Linked DNA regions of Homo sapiens: regions 1, 3, 4 and 5 are each linked to region 2. The links come from fine-mapping of genetic effects on gene expression. A gene starts in region 2. Each other region holds a variant in brackets. All regions are shown on one strand. Distances are from middle to middle.

Region 1 (4,121 bases), 48 kb before region 2:
GTCAACTGTCCCTTAACTAACATCTTCCAAGAACCAGTGAGGCTTGGCTGCCTGTCCTGGTGATGAGACCAAGGTCTACTTACGAGCATTTACAGGTGCCTACTACATGCTGGTGATTTCTGGGAGTCAGGAGGAAGATTAAAGGAGAATCAGGTGCAGCCTATAGCTGTAGTAGTTGGCAGTTTATCTAGAGAGATGATCAGGTAAATAAGTAACTGTATTATAAGAGAGGTAAGTACAAAGGCTATGGGATGGCAGAGATAGTGTCAAAATAACTCCTTGGGAGAGTCAGGAAAGACTTGGGAAAGGGTGACATTTATGCTGGCTGTAAAAGAAGATATAAAAGTGAACTTAGAGCTGAGAGTCAAGACACAGTGTTCTCTAAGCAGAGAACGGATATGCAGACATATTGCAAATACATTCTTAGAGAAAAACAAACATCATTAAACCAGTGAGGACAGGGAGTTATCCTGTATCTCAGCATTGAGCATCTGTCACCTGTGTTCACCCAGGCCGATACTTGTAGGTACAGTTTAATTCAGGGCTTGAGGACAACAGCAAACAATTCATTAAGAGTGACTATGGGGCCAGGCACAGTGGCTCACGCCTATAATCCCAGCACTTTGGGAGGTCAAAGTGGGCAAATCGCTTTCTATCTAAAAAAAAAAAAAAAAAAAAGAACAAAACAACAACAACAAAAAGAATGACTATGGCATGAGAACCATGTAGAGTTTACTGCACAGCTCCAGTAGCAGGCACACAGTTCCATATCTACTGAGATTGGTTTGGCATTAATTTCCATTTTCTCATCACCAAGGAACTGGTAAAAGTCTTAGCCACTGGAACTGTTACACCAGATTTCAAATCTTCTTTCACTGTTTATGATCTGCTGATCCACTCTTCTGAGTCTTATGCTGTTTTCATCCCAGTACAACCTGCCCTGTTTTCTTGGACCAGAACCTGTACTTTTAATACCTGTTTCAATGTATATTCCAGGGACACTTTCATAACGGAGACTTTGCCAATAGTTTTGCCATGAAGAATTCTCCTGCTTACTATGTGAATTGTTGGCCAGCAAATGGCTTCTCTTGCGGGGGTCCATCCTACAGACACTGACCCAATGACAGATGAATAACGTACACTGACACATATATTCTGCTTGTCAGTCTGGCTAAGGGTCCGGGCCCCTCACAGATACCAAGGAAGGTGCTGTAAAGAGTAGCAGCCGTGGCCCCGTTCAGCCAACAAAGCTCACATTTATTCAGTATGGATTAAATGACAAAGGTCTTGAGTAAACACTGTTAGAGGGTAATTGACCTGGTTGCCGATCCACCAGTAGACAGAAATTATGCACCCGTGGTTGATTAAAGGTTGGTCTTAGGACCACATGAGTAAACAAGCTATTTAGATAAACTACTCTATATTCCTATGTATCTACACCCTACGCTTTTAAGGGAGTTCAGCTGTCTTCAGCCAAACACTTTACACAAACCCCCAGGCCTTCTAAGAGGGTTTGTGTTTAATTCCTATAATTTCATCTTAAAATTTTTCCCACCAGCCTGACTGAACTCCCACATTCTCTCTTTGGTGACAAACCCTGCAGCTTTCTCTCCCTCTTTCTTATTTAAACATTTACTTTCCAGAGCAGCTGCCTGTTTGTTCTTAGTGATTAGCAGTCTCCTGTGGTGGAACAAGGAGAAAAGCATGGTATATCTTGAGGCTTTTTGGTGAAAGAAATACCTTCTTGAATGGATTTGAGCTGCAAATGGGTCCCCCTTGTGGTGAAGTTTCCCACTGGGAGAAAAAGAAACACATGGCCAGCCAGGCGCAGTGGCTCATACCTGTAATACCAGCACTTTGGGAGACTGAAGCAGGTGGATCACAAGGTCAGGAGTTCGAGACCAGCCT[G/T]GCCAACATGTTGAAACCCCCATCTCTACTAAAAATACAAAAATTAGCCAGGTGCAGTGGCAGGCACCTGTAATCCCAGATATTTGGCAGGCTGAGGCAGGAGAATCGCTTGAACCCAGGAGGTGGAGGTTGCAGTGAGCCAAGATCGTGCCACTGCACCCTAGCCTGAGCGACAGAACGAGACTCCATCTCAAACAAACAAACAAACAAACAAAAAACACACGGATTCACTCATTCAACAATATTTATGAAGCATCTGCTTATATGCCTGGCATTATCCCAGGTGTTAGGATATGGTGGTAAGCAAAACAGATTAAAAATTCCTTGCCTATCTGAACTATGTGATGCCTCTTTGTAATTTCATAGGAGCTCAAGCTTGCACCTTTAAACAATTCTGAGATGACCATCATGTAGGCTATACAAAGACATGAAGAAATATAAGAGCAGAATCATTCAACGAGCTGTGGAAAACCATGCCTGTTATTTCTGTGCTTCTCCCATCTAACACAAGTGCCTGGTGTAATTTTTATTTTATTCAATAAACATTTATTGAGTGCCTACAATTTATCAGGCAGTTATATTTCAGAACAATATTTTTCAAACTTTAACGGACATGTGAATCACTTGGAGATCTTGTTAAAAAGCAAATTTTGATTCATTTGATGCAAAAGTGGGGTTGGGGGTGGGGTGCAGGGGCTTAGATTTTGCATTTCTAACAACCTTCCAAGTGACGCCAATGTTGCTGGTTCATGCACCATACTTTGACACAATCACTTACATTCTGGTGGAAGACAGGTAAGTCAACAATTAGAGAATAGTAAGTTGAGGCCGGGTGTGGTGGCTCACGCCCGTAATCCCAACACTTCGGGAGGCCGAGGTGGGCTGATCACTTGAGGTCAGAATGTTTGAGACTCTGTCTCTACAAAAATACAAAATAAGCTGGGCGCAGTGGAGTGCGCCTGTAGTCCCAGCTACTCGGGAGGCTGAGGCAGAATTGCTTGAACCAGGAGGCAGAGGCAGAGGTTGCAGTGAGCTGAGATAGCACCACTGCACTCCAGCCTGGGCAACAGAGTGAGACTGTGTCTCAGAAAAAAAAAAAAAAAAAAAACAGAGAGAGAGGCCCGGCACGGTGGTTCACTCCTGTAATCCCAGAACTTTGGGAGGCCAAGGCGGGTGGTGGGGCATGAAGTCAGGAGATCGAGCCATGCTGGCTAATACAGTGAAACCCTGTCTCTACTAAAAATACAAAAAATTAGCCAGGCGTGATGGTGCATGCCTGTAATCCCAGCTACTCAGGAGGCTGAGGCAGGAGAATCACTTGAACCAGGGAGGCAAAGGTTGCAGTGAGCTGAGATTGCACCACTGCCCTCCAGCCTGGGGGACAGAGTGAGACTCCATCACAAAAAAAGAGAAAAAAAAAAGAAAGAGAGCGAGAATGGTAAACTGATATATAGAAAACACAGTGTAGCGGGAGAACAGAGGAGGACACAGAGTAAGAACTAAAGATGGGGACAATAGGATGAAACCGGTCTCCTGAAATACAACTCTGAGTCCAGTATGAAGGGTAAAGAGGGAGAGACTGAAGACATAAGCTAATACTCACACCAATAAGGATAACATTTATTATTTACATCATGCTAAGCATTGTGCAAAGTGCTTTATAGCCTAAAACTCATTGAATCCTCTCAATAGCCCTATGAGATAGGTAGCTATGGTAGACAGAATAATGTCCCCAAAGATGCTCATGTCCTAATCCCTGGAAACTGTCAATATGCAAAAGGAGAATTAAGGTTGTGTAGGAAATGAAGTTTACTTGTCATTTGATTTTAAACTAGGGAGAGTATCCCGGATTACCCAGATGGGCCCAGTGAAACCATAAGGCTCCTTACAGTGAAAGAGGGAAGCCGAAGAAGAGTCTGTGTTCGAGTGATGCCATGTGAGAAAGTTTCAACCAGCCACTGCTAGCTTTAAGGACAGAAAGGGGCCATGAACCAAGGAATACAGGCAGCCTCTAGAAATGGAAAAGCAAGCAAATGGCAGTTTCACCTAGAACCTCTAGAAGGAATGCAGCCCTACCAACACCTTAATTTTAGCCCAGTGAGACCTATTTTCGGCTCCTGACCTCTAGAACCATGAGATAATAAATTTGTGGGTTTTTTAATTTTTGATTTTTATAGGTACATAGTGGGTATGTATATTTATGGGATACATGA
Region 2 (4,121 bases):
TGTGATCTCAGCTCACTGCAACCTCAGCCTCCCGGATTCAAGTGATTCTCCTGCCCCAGCCTCCCAGGTAGCTGGGATTACAGGCTCCCACCACCACACCTGGCTAATTTTTGTATTTTTAGTAGATATGGGGTTTCACCACATTGACCAGGCTGGTCTCGAACTCCTGATCTCAAGTGATCTGCCCACCTCAGCCTCCCAAAGTGGTGGGATTACAGGCGTGAGCCACCATGCCCAGCCTATTTGCGCATGTTTCCTACTGCCGGAAGAAGGAACAGTTCTCCCATATACCACATTCCAGGGCATCCTATGATCACATAAGAACACAATCCTCCTGCCACAGGTAAGCGCAATGTACCAGGAAACAGGTTGCGGGTAAACCATTGTTCTCCCTCTGCCATTATGATAGAAATATCATGACAGGCAGCTCTGCCCCCAAATCTTGCAAAATCTCAATGTGCACCTCAAGTTTGTATTGTTTTAGCCTATGATGGAACTGACAGGTTGGGGAAAATGGAAAGCAAAGTTCCATCAGTCTGGATCGCCTTTTGTAGTGTCCCCAGTGAGATCATAGCTGGAGAGGCAAGGATGTAACTCACTCAAAATTTAAGGCTTATGGCCAAAGTTGATGACTAATAATATAGAATTGTAGGTTTGGGCTTTTTGCTTTCTTAAAAAACTCTGTCAGGTTTGGAAAGGGACCTCCAATCTAATTTTGAGATACCACAGGTAATGTCCAATTGTCTTAAGGTGTGACTAAAATTTTTCTTTTGTTTGTTTTTTGTTGTTGTTTGTTTGTTTTGCTGTGTTTTGAGATGGAGTCTTGCTCTGTCACTCAGGCTGGAGTGCAGTGGCACAATCTCGGCTCACTGCAACCTCCACCTCCTGGGTTCAAGTGACTCTCCTGCCTCGCCTCCCAGGTAGCTGGGACTATAGGCATGTGCCACCACGCCAGGCTAATTTTTTTTTTTTGTATTTTTAGTAGAGATGGGGTTTCACCATGCTGGCCAGGCTGGTCTTAACTCCTGACCTCAAGTGATCTGCCCACCTCGGCCTCCCAAAGTGCTGGGATTACAGACATGAGCCACCACGCCCAGCCTAAAATTTTTCAAAATAAACTTGCTGTTACTTTTCTTCTTTAATTTAAAAATACCTCTATAGGCTACATGAGAGTTTTTGAAAAAGTAGCCATGTTTGGCATGGAAATAGGCCCCAAATATGTCAACACCTGTATTTCCTTCCAGATTTCAGTCCTATAACTTTGGACTCCCAACAGATTAAGAATCACTGGTCTAAGGTTTCTAAAGTCAGGGTAGATCCCTTTCCCAAGTGACAGCCACAAATCCAACGCTGTATCATACCCTATCTAAAGAAAAGATAAAAGTAAACTGGCTTGGCACAGTGGCTCATGCCTGTAATCTCAGCACTTTGGGAGGCCAAGGCAGGCGGATCATGCGGTTAGGAGTTGGAGACCAGCCTAACCAACATGGTGAAACCCCGTCTCTACTAAAAATACAAAAATTCGCCGGGTGTGGTGGTGCACGCCTGTAATCCCAGCTACTCAGGAAGACTGAAGCAGGAGAATTGCTTGAACCTGGGAGGCGGAGTTTGCAGTGAGCTGAGATTGTGCCACTGTGCTCCAGCCTGGATGACAGAGCAAGACTCTGTCTCAAAAAAAAAAAAACAAAAAACAAAGATAAAAGTAAACTGAAAACAAGGATAGAAATGTCTGCTAACATGCTCTGTGACCTTGATCAACAGCTTTCCCCGCTCTTGGCCTTGGTGTCCTAACTTAAATGGGGAAACTGTGATCTCTCTCAGCTCAAAATTTACATGACATTATTTACATACCAAACCTGCCCTACGCTTCCTGGAAACTTTACTACTTATGAGTGTGGCTCCTCCTTCCCTTTCAATCCCTTAATTAAATAGCTTCCCCTCTACAGGCTTTTGAAGTGGTAGCAGTTCCTCCTAACTCCTGCCAGAAACAGCTCTCCTCAACATGAGAGCTGCACCCCTCCTCCTGGCCAGGGCAGCAAGCCTTAGCCTTGGCTTCTTGTTTCTGCTTTTTTTCTGGCTAGACCGAAGTGTACTAGCCAAGGAGTTGAAGTTTGTGACTTTGGTAAGTAGACTTTTCTCATTGCTTTTTCCTTAAAACTGTGTTCCCAGCAAAGTCTGATAAGGCAAGCGTCAGGTTTCATCTTATCCTTGGATTGTTTCCCAGAGACCAGGCTCTGTTCAAACTCAGAAAGTGAATAATCAAGTTTTGCAAGTTCCTCTTAATGAAGACCTAACGTGTCCTAACAAAAATATTTTTTGGTCGCTGTTTTTTTAGGGGTTGCTTTTTATTTGCTTTTGCTGATGTTATTTATTTACTTACTTTACAACTGCCTTGAATTCAGATTCCTTTTGACAGCCACACCAGTCCAGAAGAAACCACAGCTGGCGCTGTTTATGTACCAAGAGCTGGCTTCATTCAATTTAATCATTATTTGTTTGCAAGCCAAAAAACAGTCATTTTCTGAATTAAGTAGTCCTTTCACCTTTGTTTATCAGGAAATTAGAACAACTATTTGTAAACAACCTTGAAGCATAAAAGTGAATCTAAATTTGGAATTTTAGGATGATTTTCTGATATATAGATTTAGTTGACGATTAAAATCATTGGCACATGTGACCAGTTATGAAAAAAGGTGGGGGGTGGCTGATGCATAATATCAAGAAAAGAAAATATACTGTTGACATTGTTTGAAAATAGATGGAAAGAGGGTTTGCAAAGTGAAGGGGATTCATCATGTTACCTAAGAGTCTGATTTTCTGTTTCTGTATCTTTTTTTCCTTCTGTTTCACTCTTTCTCTGCCTCTAAGCCTCTAAGCTGCTTCTTGCCTTTCCTCTCTCGTTTTCTTTCTCTTCCCTACATTTTTTTATTTGAGATAGTGAAAGTGGGCTGATAAGTAGGTAAATTTTCTTTCTGTCAAGAATACTCAAAAATTATTTTTATAATTTGAAGGAAAGTCACTGTTTCCTTAAAAATTAAAGTTCAGGCTTTTTTTTTTTTCAGCATGGGATATTCAAAGCTCTTTACTTTCTACAGAAAATATGATACCCATGTGCTTATTTGAATCATTATTCTTATAGTCCAGTAAATCCTTACTAGGTCATGAGTCAACAATGACAGAAAACCCAGTGAAACAAACTATCAATTTATTTACAAATGATTCACCAGCTGTCAGACTTCTGTGCAGAAAAAAAATATATAATACTGTGTGCCTTCTTTAGGGAAACCCATGTGAGCTAGGCTTGTACTTCTATCAGTAGTTTTCTTGCTAACATGTGCATGAGGCAAGTTTAGGGACTGTAGAAATTGTACTGCATCTGCCGTGCTTGTAATACTGTAAACCTGTGACAAGCTGGTTGAGTGGCAGTCCTCTGAGAAATCCAAGTTACTCCAAGCTCACTGTACATGATGTATTCCCTCCTCCATGTTTTACCCAAGTTAGCCCAGGCTAACTTCCTTTGACTACCAAATTGTTGTGGGTTTCCTATATTCAGGGACTGCAAGTTAATTCTTTCCTGAGGAAAGCCAAAATACAAAGCTAGCTCTCTTAGAACTAAAAAAATTAACAAATATTGCACAAAGCCAGTGTTAACTATTTTTTCCTACCATGATTTCCTTCCATTAATGGTAGATGAAGGGCCATTTAATACATCTTTCTTGGCCCTTATAAAACAACGTCCATCTAAGTACTTAAGCCAATAAACATCAGTTTCTTATTTTTATTGACTAAAGAGAATATTTGACTATAAGTGGTTAATTTATACAAATGAGATAACTCTTAGAAAATTATTAGGAGAACCAGAATTGTTTTAAAAGATGCCCATAACTAAAGTGGTAATATTAATGATAATAACCAATAGTCAATTGAGTGCTTACTGCAAGTACTTACTGCAATTGAGTGCTTACAAGGCACTGTTCTGAGTGTTCAATATGAATTGTATCACATAAGCCTGTCAACAATCCTCTAAAATAAGGTCGTTAAATAAAATATGGGATGACCATTTGAATTTGAACTTCAGATAAATAGCAAATAATTTTTTAGTCCCATGCAATATTTGGGCA
Region 3 (4,121 bases), 36 kb before region 2:
CTCCCCAGGGGATTCTTTAAGAAAACCTCTAGCTAGCAGCCTTCTGCTCCCTCTGTTGTCCAAGTTATACGTTTGTAAGTTTTATTGGTTGGTTTTATGAGGAATATGTTCCTCCACATTCTACATTTTCCTTTGTGCTAAGAAAGGATCTAAAAACATCTGAAACTCTAACATTGTAATTGAAGCTGTGGATCAAACTGTAGAAATTATAAATTCATCTGGTTGTTTATTACATCTTAGTTCATTTTGTGTTGCTTAGAATACCTGAAACTGTGTATTTTATAAAGAAAAGGAATTTATTTTCTACAGATCAGGAGGCTAAGTCCAAGGTCGAGGGGTTGCATCTAGTGACAGCCTTCTTGCTGGGGACTTCTTTACAGAGTCCCGAGGCAGCACGGGATATCACATGGCAAAGGTGCTGAGCATGAGCTCAGGTCTCTCTTTCTCTTCTTATAAAGCCACCAGTTCCCCTCCCATGATAACATAATAATCCATTAACCCATTAGTCCATGGATGGATTATTCCATTCTTGAGGGAGAGTCCTCATGCAATCATGTCTTTTTTTGTTTTCTCTGAGACAGAGTTTTGCTCTTGTTGCCTAGGCTGGAGTGCAATGGTGCGATCTCGGCTCGGTGCAATCTCGGCTCACTGCAACCTCTGCTTCCCAGGTTCAAACGATTCTCCTGCCTCAGCCTCCCGAGTAGCTGAGATTACAGGCATGAACCATCTTACCCAGCTAATTTTGTATTTTTAGTAGAGATGGGGTTTCACCCTGTTGGTCAGGCTGGTCTTGAACTCCTGACCTCAGGTGATCCTCCCACCTCAGCCCCCCAAGGTGCTGGGATTACAGGTGTGAGCCACCACACCCAGAATTCAATCATGTCTTAAAGACCCCACCTCTCAATACTGTCACACTGGGGATTAAGTTTCAATGTGAGTTTTAAAGGGTACATTTAAACCATACCACTATGGGATGTAGGTTGTTTTGATGAGGGACAGTCTCAAAATGGGAGGAAGATTAGAATATATATATATATATATAATAATACAAAGAAAAGGCTTATCTATGTGTTAACCGGGGAAAGTTTGCCACTTTGGTAGGAGAAAAAAAATTATAAAAATGGTCACTATATCAAGATAAATGCCCCTGTCTACAATGAAGATTTAATTATTGTAAATTTTTATGCAGCATCTAAATCCATAAGTCAACAACTTCTAAAAATGTAATGAGAAATAGGTAAAAATTTAATTACAGTAAGACTGTAGCTTATCTTTGAAAATTAATAAAAATAAAAAAAGTGTCCTACAGCCAAAAAACTTTAAAACTCTCTCTGAATTTGTTTCAGAAAAAATTCAAATCAAGTAAAGTAAATAGATCCTTTTGTAGTTCATAACAGTGATTACTGGGTTTTCACGTTCATGTGTGAGATGTGCCTTTCTTTTTTTTTGTTTTTGTTTGTTTGTTTTTTGAGACAGAGTCTCGCTCCGTCTCCCAGGCTGGAGTGCAGTGGCGTGATCTCGGCTCTCTGCAACCTCCGCCTCCCGAGTTCAAGCATTTCTCTGCCTCAGCCTCCCAAGTAGCTGGGATTACAGGCACCCGCCACCATGCCTGGCTAATTTTTTGTATTTTTAGT[A/G]GAGACGGGGTTTCACCATCTTGGTCAGGCTGGTCTTGAACCCTTGACCTCGTGATCCACCCGCCCCGGCCTCTCAAAGTGCTGGGATTACAGGCGTGAGCCACCGTGCCCGGCAGCCTTTTTTAAACCTTTTTACCACATCCGCACATTACCCATCTGACATGGAAAAAGAAAAGAATTGTAAATAATTTAGAAAATAACAATAAAATCACAATGCATGAGAAACTATGGGAAACCTCAAAAACCATGAGAAAAAATTCATAACTTTAAACATTTTTAATATTAACCAATAAAGAGTTGAGGACTAAACTGATTTTTTTATCTTGCCCAAATTCCCATCTAAAGAGTCTGAGGAGTCATGCCCTATAAACCATAAGTTCTCATCAGATGGGTTTTATTTAACCCTATATATCGTGGCTTTCCAACCTGACTCTAGCATAACATTATGAGACAAGGAAGAAAATTGAAATATTTCACCCCAAAACATGTTTATTTGCCATATCTTGAAATGGCCCTGCAAAGCTGTCCTTTGTGGGGGAAAATTTGTGTCTGTAAAGAATCTCTGTTAACGTAACTAGATCTTTTTCTTCCAGGCCCTCCCAATCCTAGAGATTAACTAAAAGTTTAGCACCTTTTAAAGATCTGAATATGAAATATTTGCCATCTATTATCTCTAAGGGCAGCCACAATAAGACTTCAAAGGAACCTTGGCCTCCATAATCTTTTATCTTAACCCAAATATTTCCTTTCTGTCAGTCTCAGATCTTTAGACAAACTCAGCCAATTGTCAACCAGAAAATGTTTAAATTTACCTATAGCCTGGAATCCCACACCCCTGACTTTGAGTTGTATCATTTTTCTGGATCAAACCAATGTATTTCTAACATGTATTTGATTGATGTCTCATGCCCGCCTAAAATGTATAAAACCAAGCTGCACCCCAACCTTCTGAGGGCTGAGGGCTGTGTCACAGGTCATGATCACTCATATTTGGCTCAGAATAAATCTCTTCAAATATTTTATAGAGTTTGACTCTTTTTGTTGACAAAGCTTTTAAATTAAGCTTTTAAATCAAAACATTTTAGAAGAAGAAAGCTAAAGTAAACCAAAAGAAACATGAAAGATGAAAGTAAAAAACCATGAATTACAGAAAAAAAACAGAGAGACAGGACTAATAAATACATCTAAGAACTGAATCTTAGAAAAACAATGAAATAGGTAGCTTAACTGGCTAATATAATTTTTAAAAGGCAATACAAAATGAACACATTTAGAAGTGAGAAAAATATACATGCACATAAAGGGAATTTTAAAAGATTATAAAAACTGGATGAAATAGATTATTTTAATATAAATTACAAGTTTATACTAAATGTAAGTTAATTTACCAAAAATGACAGCAAAAGAGATGGACAAAACCAAGGACACAAAATACTACAAAGAAACTGAGAAAGTGATCAAATGGTTACCCTTTTAAAAACACTAAATTCAGACAATTTCACAGAGGGCTTCAATCAACTTCGGTCAAATCTACAAGGAACAAAGCTTGCCAGTGTTATTAAAATAGTTCCAAAGCATAAGGGAAAAAGGCTATTCAATCAGTATTTACAAAACCAGTATAACTTTGACACCAAAATCTGAAAATAATAACACAGAAAACTATAGACCAATATTTTATGAACACTATTTAAAAATCCAAAATAAAATAATGGAAAAAGAAAACATCTATTAAAAAAAATGCAAAATGATCAAGGATTCAATGAAGAAATTTAAAAATTCAACATATTAAAAGATCAAAGGAATGTCAACCTAAAGGAAAAAATTGAGGCCAACTTAACGTAAGTAGAGATTTTATTTGGACCAAGTTTGAAGACTGCAACTTGTGAACATAGATTTAAGTTGCCCTGAATATATGCTCTGATTAGCTACAGTTACAAGTAGGTTTCTAAAGAAAAAGAAGAAGCAGTTCCTAAGTTGCTTACCAAGTATTTTATATTAAAATCACATAAGCTACTGATAGGCTATACATTGTTCTTCATATCAAAAATTCCAGGAACATGAAAGTAATGGGTGAGGCAGGTAGTCAGGAACAAAATGCCTTCCTTTTTTTTTTTTTTCCCCCACTTTTTAAAAGGCAAGGTCTTGCTATATTGCCCAGGCTGGTCTCCAACTCCTGGGCTCAAGTGATCCTCTTCTGCCTCAGTCTCCAGAGTAGCTGAGACTATAGGCATACACCACCATGCTTGGCTAATTTAAAAAAAAAAAAATTTAGGAACAGGGTCTTGCTATGTTGCCCAGGCTGGCCTCCAAATCTTGGGCTCAATCAATCCTCCTGGCTTGACCTACCAAAGCGCCAGTATTATGGGCATGAGCTGATGTGCCCACCTCTGTACTCTTTATTTATCATCATACAAAATTAATACTTGAATACACACACAACTTCAAATCTCCTCCATCCCCCTCCCAGTTTTCAGCTCCCTTTCTTAG
Region 4 (4,121 bases), 56 kb before region 2:
AGTGTCAGACACACTAGCTCAGATCACAATGTGGTTAAGTTAGAAATAAATACCAAACACACAAAACCGCTTATGTATGGAAATAAACATACATCTAAATACTTCATGGGTTATAGAAGAAATCTTAATAGGACTTACAATATATTCGGCAATGAATAATAATGGACTACCTCATTTTATAATTTATGAAATGCAGCTAAAATAGTACTTAAAAGGAAATATATAACCTTAAATATACCAATGAGAGGACGGGAGAGATTGAAATCAATAGCTAAGTCTCTCTGCTGATCACTTTCAGGGCACCCCTGTAGATCTATTAGTTGCCCTTCTGTCCATTGTTCTGTGCTTCCAAAAGGCTTACCTGTAAAGACTGCATCATCCCAGCTACTTTCCTGCTGACTTCCACTTGGGTTTACTCAATGGGTGACACTCACAGGACATAAGAGATTAGAAAGAGGGATAAGGATTTTTATATATCTGCTCCCTCCTTACTTAAAGCCATGGTTTTAGCAGAGGCCCAAGGTCGTGGCTTTTTTGAGCAGCCCCTTTATCAAAGGTCTGGAAAGAGTCTACCTTCCCCCTCACAACTGAGTAATGAGGCTTACTACTGTTGCTAGTTCTGGGTAACTCATCTCTTATTGGTTTCTTTAACCCTGACACATTTATGTAAATACTCTCCTCCTTACACTCTCTTAAGTCTTCCTTTGACTATGCCATCTATTTCTTGCCAGGACCTTGGCAGACAGAGCATCCCACTTAAGAAGTTAAGAAAAGAGAAACAGAATAAACCCAGCAAAAGTAGATGGAAGAAAAAATAAAGATAAGTAGAAATTAATGCAATATAAAGCACATATACAGTAGAGAGGACCAACAAAGACAAAAGTTGACAAACTATTTGCATGATTGAGCAAGGAAAAAAAATAATATTAAAAATGTAAAGGACATAGCTAAATATAATGTCGAGATTTAAAAGATACCGAGAGAATAGTATAATTTTATGCCAATAAATTTGAAAACAAAGAAATGAATAAATTTGTAGAAAAATATAATGCAATTTCAATTAAAAATCCAGAAGATACAACCCTATCAATGGGTGTCATGCATCCATCTCAGACAGGAATCCAGGAGTCAATTATTAAGTCAATTATTAAAGAATTTTGTGAGCTGATTGTTAAACTGTTGGTAGCTTGATGTTGGCCAGGGTGGGAGTATTCACACTACAAAAATAAGTGAACACTACAACAATTATAGAATTTGAGTCATTAGTTAAAAATCTGCCCACAAAAACTTCGGGCTTCAAGGGTTTAACCAGCAAGCTCTACGAAACATTCATTAAACAAGTAATTCTAGTCTTCTATAAACTCTTTCAGGTAAACAGAGAATCATTTGATGAGTTTAGCATAACTTTGATGTCCAATATGATGAAGTATGAATGAGAAAAGTCACAGGACACTCTTATTACTAACTAAGCAAAAAATGCTAAACACAAAGTAAAGCAAATCCAGTGATGTGTATAAAATATAACATGAATAAAATGGATTTTCCCAGAAATACTTTCATTAGAAGGCATAACACTAGAAAATCTTTTTTTATTTTTTATTTTTTTATTTATTTTTATTTTTATTTATTTTTTTTTTTTGAGACAGAGTCTTGCTCTGTCACCCAGGCTGGAGTGCAGTGGCATGATCTCGGCTCTGCCTCCGGGTTCATGCCATTCTCCTGCCTCAGCCTCCCGAGTAGCTGGGACCACAGGCGCCCACCACCACGCCCAGCTAATTTTTTGTATTTTTAGTAGAGACGGGGTTTCACCATGTTAGCCAGGATGGTCTTGATCTCCTGACCTCGTGATCTGCCCACCTCAGCCTCCCAAAGTGCTGGGATTACAGGCGTGAGCCACCGCGCCCAGTCTAGAAAATCTTTTAATTCTCCACTTAATACATTTATGAACTTATGTCATCATCTCAATAGATTAAAAAGAACCTCAATAATACTCATCATTTTAAAAAAGAAGAAAAACTCCTAACATATCGAGAATAGGGGAGAATTTCTTTAACCTAATAAAGAGTAACCCCCACAAATTCCCACCCCCAGCAAAAGAAAAAGAAAAAAATGTGGTAACACATTGAATGCATTTTTTGTAAAGTCAGAAACAACTCATGGGCACCCAATGACTTTCGCTACTTCTATGTAACATTGTCCTAAGGGTTTTAGCTGGCATTTTAAGGCATGGAAAAGAAATAACCTGTACAAAATAACAAGGCTTATTGCAAAATATAGCGT[G/A]GGAGAAGGTAGCTGTCACCATTCTCAAGGAGGAAGTTTAAACCCAATAACTATACCACAACAAAACTTGAAGGCAAAGAGAAAAGATTTATAGAGAAAGACCCAAGAAGCTAGAAAAAGTTTCCCTCCTTCTTCTTCCATAATGATTTTTCTGACAGGTGAAGCCACCGCCACCACCACCACCACCACCACCACCAGGGAATCATTAAGAGCCCTTAGATCTCACCAGGTACTATAGAATCTGGAAACACAGTGAGCAAGAAATCTCATTCCATCAGGCCCATTCTAGCCACCAGTAGCCATCCCAAGGTAAAGCAATTGCTCCTGCCCCCCTGGAATGATGAATCCCCTATTCTCTGCCCTCCTTGAATGGCTGGTGGTTTCAGCTATGAGTGTGGTGTACTGATGCTCAAAGTGTAGTCCAAGGACTGTTGTAGGTCTACTCTTTGTTACTGGTCGCTAACAAGAAAAGTGCAGAAATGAAGAGTAAGCAAACAGAACCTGTATAGCAACTTGACACAGTCATTTCACATCTGTTGAATCTAACGATAATTTTTTTAAATTCTGGCTTATATTTGCAAGTCTTTTTTCTCAATTTTATTTTTCTATTAATTTATTTTTAGTGTATTTTTTAAAATCATGAAGGGATTGAAAAATTTAAAACAAACAAAACAACCAAACAAAAAAAAAAACTGATCCCTCACCTGGGGCACTTTTAAAATTCTTAGTGCCCCGCCTAAACCCTACACCTACACCTATTGCATCAGAATATCTAGGGTGGCACCAGACATCAATATTTCTTTATAATCCAGGCTATTGTAGTTTGCAAACAGGGTGAAGCCTTCCTCTCCAAAGCATGCCTGTGGAGCAACAGCATTGGCATCACCCGGAGCTCATTAGAACTACAGAGACTCAGACCCCACCCAGACCTATGGAACCATAATTGCATTTCAACAAGAAGATTGTATGCCCACTCAAGTCTGAAAAGGTTAAATTTAGAGAATGATATCAGAGGTATTGGTCTGCTTTTCAAGGCCCCAAGAGCACAGAGATTTTTCTGGAGAGGGAGTGCGAAGTGGGTCATCACCAGCACTAATATTACCACAGGGACTTCCTAATTGACTATCCTTCCCACAGCTGGCAAGGTGACCTTTCCTAAACAAACCTGTTACTGCTCTCCTGGGGCCTACAAGATCAAGTCCAAACCCCTGACAGCACAGGATACTCACCACCCCTCACCCCATCCCCAACATTTTGTCCCCTTCTTATCTGCTCAACCTCCTTCACACACACTCACACACCACACTTTACATACACATCATACCCACTCACACACACCACACACACGCCATGCAAACACTCCATCCATACCACATATACTCTACATACACATCATATACACACATACCATACACACTGTCACACACACCGCATACACCACACACACCCACACATACCACACACACATATACATCACAGACACCATACCCACTCACACACAGAAACATATACCCCACACATACCACACACATGCTCATACATACACACCACACACACACTGCACATACACACCCCACACACTCCACATACATATCACACACCCTCACACTCACACACACACACACACACACTCTGGACACAACTCCATTCCTCTGCTAATTCCCCTATCTCTGCCTAAAATTCTACCCCCTCTCAATCCTCAATTAATGTCACCCTCTTGCCTACCTAAAGAACTCCTTCCCCTGGTGGCTCACAACTGTAATTCTAGCATTTGAGGAGGCAGACACATGAGAATCACTGGATCCCAAGTCTGAGACCAGCCTGGACAACATAGAAACTCC
Region 5 (4,121 bases), 59 kb after region 2:
TTGTGTCTCTATTTCCTTCAGTTCTGCTCTGATTTTAGTTATTTCTTGCCTTCTGCTAGCTTTTGAATGTGTTTGCTCTTGCTTTTCTAGTTCTTTTAATTGTGATGTTAGGGTGTCAATTTTGGATCTTTCCTGCTTTCTCTTGTGGGCATTTAGTGCTATAAATTTCCCTCTACACACTGCTTTGAATGCATCCCAGAGATTCTGGTATGTTGTGTCTTTGTTCTCGTTGGTTTCAAAGAACAACTTTATTTCTGCCTTTATTTCGTTATGTACCCAGTAGTCATTCAGGAGCAGGTTGTTCAGTTTCCATGTAGTTAAGTGGTTTGGAGTGAGTTTCTTAATCCTGAGGTCTAGTTTGATTGCACTGTGGTCTGAGAGACAGTTTGTTATAATTTCTGTTCTTTTACGTTTGCTTAGGAGTGCTTTACTTCCAACTATGTGGTCAATTTTGGAATAGGTGTGGTGTGGTGCTGAAAAAAATATATATTCTGTTGATTTGGGGTGGAGAGTTCTGTAGATGTCTATTAGGTCCACTTGGTGCAGAGCTGAGTTCAATTCCTGGGTATCCTTGTTGACTTTCTGTCTCGTTGATCTGTCTAATGTTGACAGTGGGGTGTTAAAGTCTCCCATTATTAATGTGTGGGAGTCTAAGTCTCTTTGTAGGTCACTCAGGACTTGCTTTATGAATCTGGGTGCTCCTGTATTGGGTGCATATATATTTAGGATAGTTAGCTCTTGTTGTTGAATTGATCCCTTTACCATTATGTAATGGCCTTCTTGGTCTCTTTTGATCTTTGTTGGTTTAAAGTCTGTTTTATCAGAGACTAGGATTGCAACCCCTGCCTTTTTTTGTTTTCCATTTGCTTGGTAGATCTTCCTCCATCCTTTTATTTTGAGCCTATGTGTGTCTCTGCACGTGAGATGGATTTCCTGAACACAGCACACTGATGGGTCTTGACTCTTTATCCAATTTGCCAGTCTGTGTCTTTTAATTGGAGCATTTAGTCCATTTACATTTAAAGTTAATATTGTTATGTGTGAATCTGATCCTGTCATTATGATGTTAGCTGGTGATTTTGCTCGTTAGTTGATGCAGTTTCTTCCTAGTCTCGATGGTCTTTACATTTTGGCATGATTTTGCAGCGGCTGGTACCGGTTGTTCCTTTCCATGTTTAGCACTTCCTTCAGGAGCTCTTTTAGGGCAGGCCTGGTGGTGACAAAATCTCTCAGCATTTGCTTGTCTGTAAAGTATTTTATTTCTCCTTCACTTATGAAGCTTAGTTTGGCTGGATATGAAATTCTGGGTTGAAAATTCTTTTCTTTAAGAATGTTGAATATTGGCCCCCACTCTCTTCTGGCTTGTAGGGTTTCTGCCGAGAGATCCGCTGTTAGTCTGATGGGCTTCCCTTTGAGGGTAACCCGACCTTTCTCTCTGGCTGCCCTTAACATTTTTTCCTTCATTTCAACTTTGGTGAATCTGACAATTATGTGTCTTGGAGTTGCTCTTCTCGAGGAGTATCTTTGTGGCGTTCTCTGTATTTCCTGAATCTGAATGTTGGCCTGCCTTGCTAGATTGGGGAAGTTCTCCTGGATAATATCCTGCAGAGTGTTTTCCAACTTGGTTCCATTCTCCCCATCACTTGCAGGTACACCAGTCAGACGTAGATTTGGTCTTTTCACATAGTCCCATATTTCTTGGAGTCTTTGCTCATTTCTTTTTATTCTTTTTTCTCTAAACTTCCCTTCTCACTTCATTTCATTCATTTCATCTTCCATTGCTGATACCCTTTCTTCCAGTTGATCGCATCAGCTCCTGAGGCTTCTGCATTCTTCACGTAGTTCTCGAGCCTTGGTTTTCAGCTCCATCAGCTCCTTTAAGCACTTCTCTGTATTGGTTATTCTAGTTATACATTCTTCTAAATTTTTTTCAAAGTTTTCAACTTCTTTGCCTTTGGTCTGAATGTCCTTCCGTAGCTCAGGGTAATTTGATCTTCTGAAGCCTTCTTCTCTCAGCTCGTCAAAGTCATTCTCCATCCAGCTTTGTTCCGTTGCTGGTGAGGAACTGCGTTCCTTTGGAGGAGGAGAGCCGCTCTGCTTTTTAGAGTTTCCAGTTTTTCTG[T/G]TCTGTTTTTTCCCCATCTTTGTGGTTTTATCTACTTTTGGTCTTTGATGATGGTGATGTACAGATGGGTTTTTGGTGTGGATGTCCTTTCTGTTTGTTAGTTTTCCTTCTAACAGACAGGACCCTCAGCTGCAGGTCTGTTGGAATACCCTGCCGTGTGAGGTGTCAGTGTGTCCCTGCTGGGGGGTGCCTCCCAGTTAGGCTGCTTGGGGGTCAGGGGTCAGGGACCCACTTGAGGAGGCAGTCTGCCCGTTCTCAGATCTCCAGCTGCGTGCTGGGAGAACCACTGCTCTCTTCAAAGCTGTCAGACAGGGACATTTAAGTCTGCAGAGGTTACTGCTGTCTTTTTGTTTGTCTGTGCCCTGGCCCCAGAGGTGGAGCCTACAGAGGCAGGCAGGCCTCCTTGAGCTGTGGTGGGCTCCACCCAGTTCGAGCTTCCCTGCTGCTTTGTTTACCTAAGCAAGCCTGGGCAATGGCGGGCGCCCCTCCCCCAGCCTCGCTGCCGCCTTGCAGTTTGATCTTAGACTGCTGTGCTAGCAATCAGCGAGACTCCGTGGGCGGGCGTAGGACCCTCCGAGCCAGGTGCGGGTTATAATCTCGTGGTGCGCCGTGTTTTAAGCCTGTCGGAAAAGCGCAGTATTCGGGTGGGAGTGACCCAATTTTCCAGGTGCGTCCGTCACCCCTTTCTTTGACTAGGAAAGGGAACTCCCTGACCCCTTGCGCTTCCCGAGTGAGGCCCTCGCCCTGCTTCGGTTCGCGCACGGTGCGCGCACCCACTGGCCTGCGCCCACTGTCTGGCACTCCCTAGGAGATGAACCCGGTACCTCAGATGGAAATGCAGAAATCACCCGTATTCTGCGTCGCTCACGCTGGGAGCTGTAGACGGGAGCTGTTCCTATTCGGCCATCTTGGCTCCTCCCCCTGAAAATCATTTTCTACCAAAACTTTGAAGGCGGTATTCTGCTGTCTTCCAGCATACAGGATTGCTGATGAGAAGTCTATCAGTCTGATTCTCATTCCAATGTAAGTAATCTGTTTTGCTTTTTCTAATTCTTTTAAGATATTCTCTTTAGCTTAGAGTTCTGAAATTTCACCAGGTTGTGTTTAGGCATGGGTATTTTGGGTTTTTGTTTGTTTTCTGTCTAATTCTGTATGGCTGATATGATTTTTTTCCATCTAAAGACACTTGTCTTTCTCCAACTAAGAAAAATTGTGTTCTGGAACTTGAATTTCTTGGGTCTATCCTCCATGCCTTGAGTTTTCTCTCATATTTTCCACCATTTATTTTATTTCTCTACATTCCAGTAAATTTCGTTTTCCAGAACATCAACTTGGTCGTCAGCAAATCCATTATTCCTGTTTTACTTACGAGTATTCTTTTCTTTGGTATTTACTGACTGTTCTTTTTTTCACCGTAGCTGTTTTTTGTTTGTCTGTTTTCAGAAATGGGGTCTCACTCTGTTGCCCCAGCTGGAGTGCAATGGCAGTATCACAGCTCACTGCAGCCTCAAACTCCTAGGCTCAAGGGATCCTCCTGCCTCAGCCTCCCAAACAGCTGAGATTACAGGCACATGCCACCACACCTGGCAGCCTCATTATTTTATCAGTGCAATCTCCTCTTGAAAATCTTTAAGGATACTAATAATTTTTTCAAGTTCTCCTCTGCTCCCTAAATTATCTGTTTTCTCTGGGCTCAGTTTTTTGGGTTTATTAATCTTGGACCTTGTGTTTAATGCTATGGTTTTTTTCTCAAATTCTTGTAAATCATAATCCACAAATGAAGAGCTTGGAGGATTAATAGAGATGGTTAGTGTTGGTTTTCGTTTTAGCCATGTATGTGTTTCCCCAAGAAAAGTTCTTCTTGAATAGCTGCTTTAAAATTCTCACATGCTAATTGCAATATCTTAGTCATTTCAAGACCAGTCTTTGTTGTCCTTTCCTATATGGGTTCTGTTTTTCTGTTTCCTTTTATGTAGACCAATTTTGGATTTTGTCTTAG

The links. PIP is the estimated chance that this variant, and not a neighbour inherited with it, causes the effect. A credible set is the group of variants that fine-mapping cannot tell apart.
Region 1: its variant is the best candidate, but not a certain one, in a credible set for the expression of ACP3 in whole blood (TOPMed, PIP 0.53).
Region 3: its variant is the best candidate, but not a certain one, in a credible set for the expression of ACP3 in sun-exposed skin (GTEx, PIP 0.64).
Region 4: its variant is the best candidate, but not a certain one, in a credible set for the expression of ACP3 in whole blood (TOPMed, PIP 0.81).
Region 5: its variant is the best candidate, but not a certain one, in a credible set for the expression of ACP3 in whole blood (TOPMed, PIP 0.85).

The regions. Positions count from the first base shown.
Region 1 is chr3:132,267,382-132,271,502 of GRCh38, forward strand. No RefSeq gene overlaps it. Among named protein-coding and RNA genes, the nearest start is that of TRC-GCA9-1, 38 kb to the left of the region's middle. The variant G/T (reference allele first, on the strand shown) is at 1,909.
Region 2 is chr3:132,315,455-132,319,575 of GRCh38, forward strand. It overlaps ACP3 (acid phosphatase 3), which reads left to right and starts at 1,953. Exons shown (of 10, transcript NM_001099.5): 1 at 1,953-2,122. The coding sequence starts at 2,003.
Region 3 is chr3:132,279,243-132,283,363 of GRCh38, forward strand. It overlaps the pseudogene LOC124906374. Among named protein-coding and RNA genes, the nearest start is that of ACP3, 36 kb to the right of the region's middle. The variant A/G (reference allele first, on the strand shown) is at 1,635.
Region 4 is chr3:132,259,423-132,263,543 of GRCh38, forward strand. No RefSeq gene overlaps it. Among named protein-coding and RNA genes, the nearest start is that of TRC-GCA9-1, 30 kb to the left of the region's middle. The variant G/A (reference allele first, on the strand shown) is at 2,281.
Region 5 is chr3:132,374,218-132,378,338 of GRCh38, forward strand. It overlaps LOC124909435 (a long non-coding RNA gene), which reads left to right and starts at 2,572. Exons shown (of 2, transcript XR_007096093.1): 1 at 2,572-3,145. The variant T/G (reference allele first, on the strand shown) is at 2,123.